Homo sapiens: one gene and its partner. The protein of the gene in region 1 purifies or fractionates together with the protein of each later gene. This does not show direct contact. Each region holds a gene or a part of one and is shown in the gene's direction. Other genes may lie near its edges.

Region 1 (3,524 bases):
AAGTGGCTGAAAGTAATTTAATTGAGAAGGCAAAGGAACACTAAAGTTGCTTATCTTTCCCTGAAAGGAAATTGAAAAGAATTTCTCCAGAAAGCTGCCTGGGGTCCCTAGATGACACTTTGGCCATCTTGGTTATCTTATAGGTCATAAACATGACATTTAAGATATTTAAGATGACTTTTACAATATGCTCAAGCCTTACAAAGGAGCGTGGTGTGCTTGTAGCTAACATCTCTTTCTCAATTCCACAGGAACGTGGCTGAAGAGCGGTCTGGGTCTTGTGCACCAGGAAGGCAGCCAGCTGACGTGGACATACATTGCCCCCCAGTTGGGGTACTGGGTGGCCGCCATGTCCCCTCCCATCCCAGGTAACACGGAGCCAACACTTGCGATGATGCGGATCAGTTGCTTTGGTCTTTGAGGGTTCAGGCTAAGTATGCTCTTGAAAATAACTTCAGCAGGGCGATCACATCTTATTCAAAAATGGTTAAAAGTCTGAAAATGAGATGATGTAAAGAAGGTATTTTGCGGGGGTGGGGGACTTCTGGTTGGAAATCTTCCATCTAGGGTAAGAATAATGCATAGAAAATAGTCTTGAGTGGCTGTTTTGTTCAGACAGCTGCCATAGGGAATTCTTCATCAAAAGCCCACAGAGACCAGCAAGACCTCCTCCCTAATTCCTGAAACAGCTGTGGCCTGGTATAGGCACACATGTAGGGAAAAGCACTCCACAGAGATGCTAGTGGGAAGTCACCACTGGGGGCAAAAAGCCTGGTGGGGCATTTCCAAAATGGCTTAAACGTAAACCAGTTGCTTTGTATCTACGAGAATCTTCCCCTCCATTTAGGATATGTGCATTAATGCATATCTTTCAGAACGTGACCAATAGTTTATTTTTTTTAACCTATGTTACCCCCAAAAATATTCTAGAATTGTTGAGTTTTGTTTTGTTTTGTTTTGTTTTCAAAATGGTCATCTCAGGAGAATTATTTCCAGTGATAGCTTCTGTTGCTCAAGCTGCCTTTAGAATCTATATTACTTGGACTGCCTTCTGCCTTCATTAGTAAATCTCTTTCTTGGTGGCAAATCTTTATGCTCAAATGGCAAATCTTTATGATTTTTCTTTTTAAAGACATCTAAAAGTCATGCACATTCAAGACTGGTGAATAAAGTAGGTGACTTAGCTAGGTCGAAATGTGCTGTGATTAAAAGGTGTCTCTTGTAAATGAACCATGAAGGCAGTTCTAAAATGCAAGTTCAAATATTTTAGCAATGGAATTATCACTGGAATTAGCACTTAGACTCACAAAGTAACTGATTTGATGGAGGTCTTTCCTAAACAGGTGTGGAAAAATGTGTTACAATGACTTTATATCACCATACTAAGAAAATTTACACTTCACATCTGTTTTAAGAGTAATGTGTTTCCCTTAGCCGGGCGCGGTGGCTCACGCCTGTAATCCCAGCACTTTGGGAAGCCGAGGAGGGCGGATCACGAGGTCAGGAGATCAAGACCATCCTGGCTAACATGGTGAAACCCCGTCTCTACTCAAAATACAAAAATTAGCTGGGCGTGGTGGCACACGCCTGTAGTCCCAGCTACTTGGGAGGCTGAGGCAGGAGAATCGCTTGAACCCAGGAGGCAGAGGTTGCAGTGAGCCGAGATTGTGCCACTGCACTCCAGCCTGGGCGACAGAGCGAGACACCCTCTCAAAAAAAGAAAAAAAAGATTAATGTGTTTCCCTTGATGCTATTGTTTTTGTAGTGATATAAGCATGAACCACACGTAGAAATGCCCCATTCTCTGAATCTGAAATACCTAGATTATGACTGAAGAGAAACAAAGGAAGGAAAAGAATTGTCTTAAGCACTAAAATAAATGCCATAAAGCCCACGCATTAAAATGAACTTTAATTTTAGATGTATTTCAATCTCAGCTATTAGTTTTCCCATCATGCAGTAGATCAGTACATGCTTTTTGTGTGTGTGTGTTTTGGTTTTGTTGTTGTTGTTGTTCGTTTGTTTTTTTGAGACAGAGTTTTGTTCTTGTTGCCCAGGCTGGAGTACCATGGCATGATCTCAGCTCATGGCCACCTCCGCCTCCTGGGTTCAAGCAATTATCCTGCCTCAGACTCCAGAGTAGCTGAGATTACAGGTCTCCGCCGCCACACCTGGCTAATTTTTGTATTTTAGTGGAGACAGGGTTTCACCATGTTAGTCAGGCTGGTCTTGAACTTCTGACCTCCGGTGATCCCCCCGCCTCAGCCTCCCAAAGTGCTGAAATTACAGGCATGAGCCACTGCGCCTGTCCAGTATATGCTTTTGTAAGGCAGCATGAAGGAACTGCCAGACGTAGCTCCCCTGAGAGCTTCCTAGCAGTGAAGGAAGAGACTCAAGGCTATAAAAAGCATACACAGGCCAGGGCATGGTAGCTCACACCTGTAATCCCAGCACTTTGGGAGGCAAGGCAGGATGATCTCTTGAGCCCAGGAGTTCAAGACCAGCCTGGGCAACACAGCAAGACCCCACTTCTAAAAAAATTTTTTTTAATTAGCCAGTGATGGTAGCATTCACCTGTAATCCCGGTTACTTGAGAGGTTGAGGCAGGAGGATCCCGTGAGCTCAGGAGTTCAAGGCTGCAGTGAGCTATGATCATGTCACTGCACTCCAGCGTAGGTGACAGAGTGAGACCCCATCTCAAAAATAACACAAAGCATACCCACTACAGCCTCTGATGGTATTTAATGTAGGGATACATATGTCAGTCATCTCACAACCCACCTTTATTACAAAAAATTATACTAATATTGGGCTTTCATGAACTCAAAAGCAACAACAAAATAATTTGGGTTATGTTCCTTAACTCCTTGAAGTGAAGTATAGCTGTGAATTTTATAAAGAATCGTACTGGCAGAGATTAAAACAATAATGCTGGCCAGGCACGGTGGTTCATGCCTGTAATCCCAGGACTTTGGGAGGCCAAAGTGGGCGAATCATGAGGTCAGGAGATCAAGACCATCCTGGCTAACACGTTGAAACCCTGTCTCTACTAAAAATACAAAAAATTTGCCAGGCACAGTAGCACACACCTGTAGTCCCAGGTACTCAGGAGGCTGAGGCAGGAGAATTATCCGAACCTGGGAGGCAGAGGTTGCAGTGAGCCCAGATCGTGCCACTGCACTCCAGCCTGAATGATAGAGTGAGACTCCATCTCAAAACAAAACAAAACAAAACAATAATGCTTTGAGTACTTAAAGGACGAAGCATCAGTATTTGGAAATACTTTTATGTGTACCCTAAGTTTCTTGGTGACTCCTGACAAAGCTTTGCTACATCCGTGGGAATTGTCTATTGTCTTTGCATGAAAAAATTGTTTCTCTGGGCCGGGTGCGGTGGCTCATGCCTGTAATCCCAGCACTTTAGGAGGACGAGGCAGGTGGATGATGAGGTCAGGAGTTCAAGACCAGCCTGGCCAAGATGGTGAAACCCCATCTCTACTTAAAAAAATTAGCCAGGCATGGTGG
Region 2 (3,524 bases), on another chromosome or scaffold:
CTGGTGCCATCTGCATAAAATAATATGTTCTGTTTTTTTTTTTCTCAGTCACCAAGCAGCCCCCTCTACAGAATGAAGTCAGGAAACCGAGTTGCAACATTTATGATCTATGTGAGTATTGCTCTGGGCTTCTTACTTCATGACTGACTATAGCTCTACTTTATTTTATTGTTTTCAAAGCAATTTCACGTATTGATTTTATCTGGTACTCAGCGCAAAAATCTCCAGGAATTTTGCGAATTTCAGACAGCATTTTTGATAGGCACTGTAGGAGATGTAAAGAAATACAAGACAAGGTTTCTACCCTGAAAGAGGCTGACAGTGTGTAAATCTAAATATGACCTTGGTATGGGCAGTGGATTAGGATGGGAAGTGGAGCTCCACTGAAGGCCAAGAGATAGAGGGACTTGAACAACACAGGAGGAGGATCTGAGAATCTGTGTCCTTGAGGTCTCATGGACTAATCAGTGTTGAAAAACAACCCATAGATGAGGTTGTGGGGCTGTGGGGAGGGAGATGGATGAGGAATGAGGCAGCAGATTTACAAGAGGGAAGAACAGAGACACTGAGAGAAATTCAGCAAGTGCTGCCTCTGATGTTTAGTGAAAATTCTCTTCCTTATCTCTCTATAAAATCTTCAGTAAAATCTCCATGACTCCCCTTTCAAGATAAACCAATAAATTGTACTTCTCTCCTAATTCCTGGCCTGATCAGGATTCGGCCCCAGTCTGTATCATCTCACCTGTCCCCTTCCCTTCAGATCATGTGGGTTTACTTTCGTCTCTATGGACAAGCTTCCAATCACCTGTCACTGGAAGAGAATATTAGAATTAATCACTTATTAGAAGAGATACCTTACTGTTAACTGAAGGGACAAACATATATAAGGGTTCTATATAACAACCAAAGATGAAGTCCTTGTTTCAGCCTCATTAGAATAGCAGACATCCCTCACCCCAGCTTTTCCTCTTCTATTAGGACTGTCTCTGGTCTCCACAGGACAGCCAAGAAAGGGCAGTCAGAGGCCAGCATTCTGTGTAGTCTTTAATGCCAGCAATTCCAGTGTGTTTCTCTATGTGGCTCAGTTCTGTACTTCCTATGGAACTGGAAGGCTTCCACTTACAATGGTGTCTGGCCTCATTCTGATCATTCTGAGGTCAGCTATCAGGCAGGGGACACATCTTGGAGCTGCAGTTGGTTGCATCTCTGGTTGACCACTCCAGCTGTTATGGGAGGTCACAAACGGCGAAAGAATGAACTGCTGCCAAAAAACAGGGCATCTAGGGCACAATATATCTCTGTTCTTTATCCCCTCAATATCTCCTATGGCTGGTTCCCTGGTTACAGGGCCCCAGTTACTATAGCGAAGGTAGCGTGGGTATAAGAGCCCAGTAATTTTAAATGGCAAATGCATGTGTGTGTGTGTGTGTGTGTGTATGTGTGTGCATGCACTCTCATGCACTTTCACATGTGTGTGCATGCATGTGCATTTGGGTTTTAAGTATTTGAGACAGAGTGGAATGGAATACACTTTGGATTTGGAGTCAGTTGACCTAATCCTGATTTTGCCACTTACTATGTGGCCTCAGCACAGATTACATCTATTATGTGAGCTCACTTTTTGCCCTGTGCTTCCTCACAGTGTTGTTGTGAGGGTCTGATGAGATAATGTAAGGAGGGATGTCACTCTGGAAAGTTCCATACTGTATGTTTCTGTCATTGTATCCCACAGAGCAATTAAAGGAAAGGGTATCATAAAGGGGAATCAGTATCATGGGACCAGGGAAGTGCTAGATTATGCCCAAGTCTTTCATCTTCAGGTTGGGATTTCTCGAGACAATTTCAAGACAAACATTTCTCAAGACAAATGTTAAGGTTTGTGGGAAACCTAAGACTGATTTTATAGGGAGAAAATAATCTTTAAGAAGTACAGAGGATTGAGTTGAAGTCCAGTTGGTGATTTTCTGCTCAGATTGGACATAAGATCAGTCCCAATCTGGGTGCGGTGGTGTGCACCTGTAGTCCCCGCTACTTGGCAGGCTCAAGCAAGAAGATCGCTTGAGCCCAGCAGTTCGAGTCCAGCCTGGGTAACATAGTGAGACCCTGTCTCTATTAAAAAAAAAAGATCAGCCCCAGTACAAAATAGTAGAAGGTATACAGACGGAAGATTTCTCTCCCTTTCCCACTGTTCTTACAGCCCATGCCGTGCTCATGAGCTTCATTGCATGCAGAATCCGATTTTCTTTTTAATGTGTTGGCTATGTCATTCCTTTCCACCATATTGTAAAACCACAGGTAAAAGAATGCAGGAAAGTCCAGGTTGCCCCTTACTGACAAGGGCTAGAATAGAATAATCTAATTTGTTACCTGAACACAAGGAGCCAATTGTTGTTCTCATCGGCTTTCCCAGTGTGCTACAGGGAGAGCCAAGGAATGCTAATAGTCACCACTGCCATTTCCAGGTTCCAAATCACCATGTCAGTTCACTTGCATCTACCAAGGGCCAGCGTCCTACCTCCTATACCTCTTGCTCTGTAACACAAGTAAATGTACCGGGATCTGACTGCCATAAGATTACAGAGCATGAACCTTCTGGTAGATAATGCTAGGCAGCGTGAGGTAAAACTGGCACTCTTGTGTGATGCAACTGCTGAAAAAATAATTTAGCAAAATGTATAAGAAGTATGAAACTTATGCATGTCCTTTTGACCCCATAATACTAGTGCCAAGACTCTTTCCTATGAAAACAATCCAAAATGCAAAATGATTTTTTTTCATTAAGTTGTTCAGTGCAGTGTTGTTTATAATAGTAAACATTTGGATATGACCTAAATTTCCAAATGTGTAGCATGATGGTTATGAGCAGGGACTTTGTAGTCACATGGCACCAGCTCAGCTCAAATCCTGACTCCATCATGGAAGAGCCATGTGACCTTTTATAAAGTGCTTAAGCTCTCTGAGACTTGGTTTCTTTATCTGTAAAATGTGAAGAGTTAAAAATAATAACGATTGTAACTCCTAGGATTGTTCTGAGGAATAAATGAGATAATATATTTGCAAGGACATAGTGTAACTTTTAGCATATAGTCAGTGCCCAATAAATGTCAACTATCACTATGTAAACTATAACTTTTTTCTGGATGGTACAATGATAATTATTGTTATTTAAAAATATTTTCCTGTTTTAAAACAGTTTACAATTATTATATATTTCTGTGACAACCAGAAAAAAAGCTTCACATTAAGAAAACATATCCATAGTCCTAGAACAGACCAGTGATGAAACTCCTTAGCTTGGGTTCCCTGGAGAGGAGCAGAGTGATCTGGAGAATATGCCAAAGGTGTAATAAGTAGTTCCTATGATGCCCAGCTTTCAAGAAGAATCATAGTCTAAACTGGTTTTCAAGCCACAAGTCATGATCCATTATAGGTTGTGAGATTAATTTAGTGGTTCTGATGAGCATTTAAGAGAACCACACTAGAATAGAATAAAATAAAGTAGAGAAGATCAGAAGCTATCTCAG

What was found. Proteins that work in one complex are often made in the same cells at the same time.
Region 2: the proteins of FAM171A1 (region 1) and P4HA3 purify together in Homo sapiens (co-immunoprecipitation; one large-scale study listed by IntAct). This does not show direct contact.

What each region holds. Positions count from the first base shown.
Region 1 is NC_000010.11:15,217,788-15,221,311, reverse strand, and holds part of FAM171A1 (protein FAM171A1 precursor), read left to right. Parts: intron 1-251; coding exon 252-368; intron 369-3,524. UniProt on the Homo sapiens protein: Involved in the regulation of the cytoskeletal dynamics, plays a role in actin stress fiber formation.
Region 2 is NC_000011.10:74,270,132-74,273,655, reverse strand, and holds part of P4HA3 (prolyl 4-hydroxylase subunit alpha-3 isoform 1 precursor), read left to right. Parts: intron 1-48; coding exon 49-111; intron 112-3,524. UniProt on the Homo sapiens protein: Catalyzes the post-translational formation of 4-hydroxyproline in -Xaa-Pro-Gly- sequences in collagens and other proteins.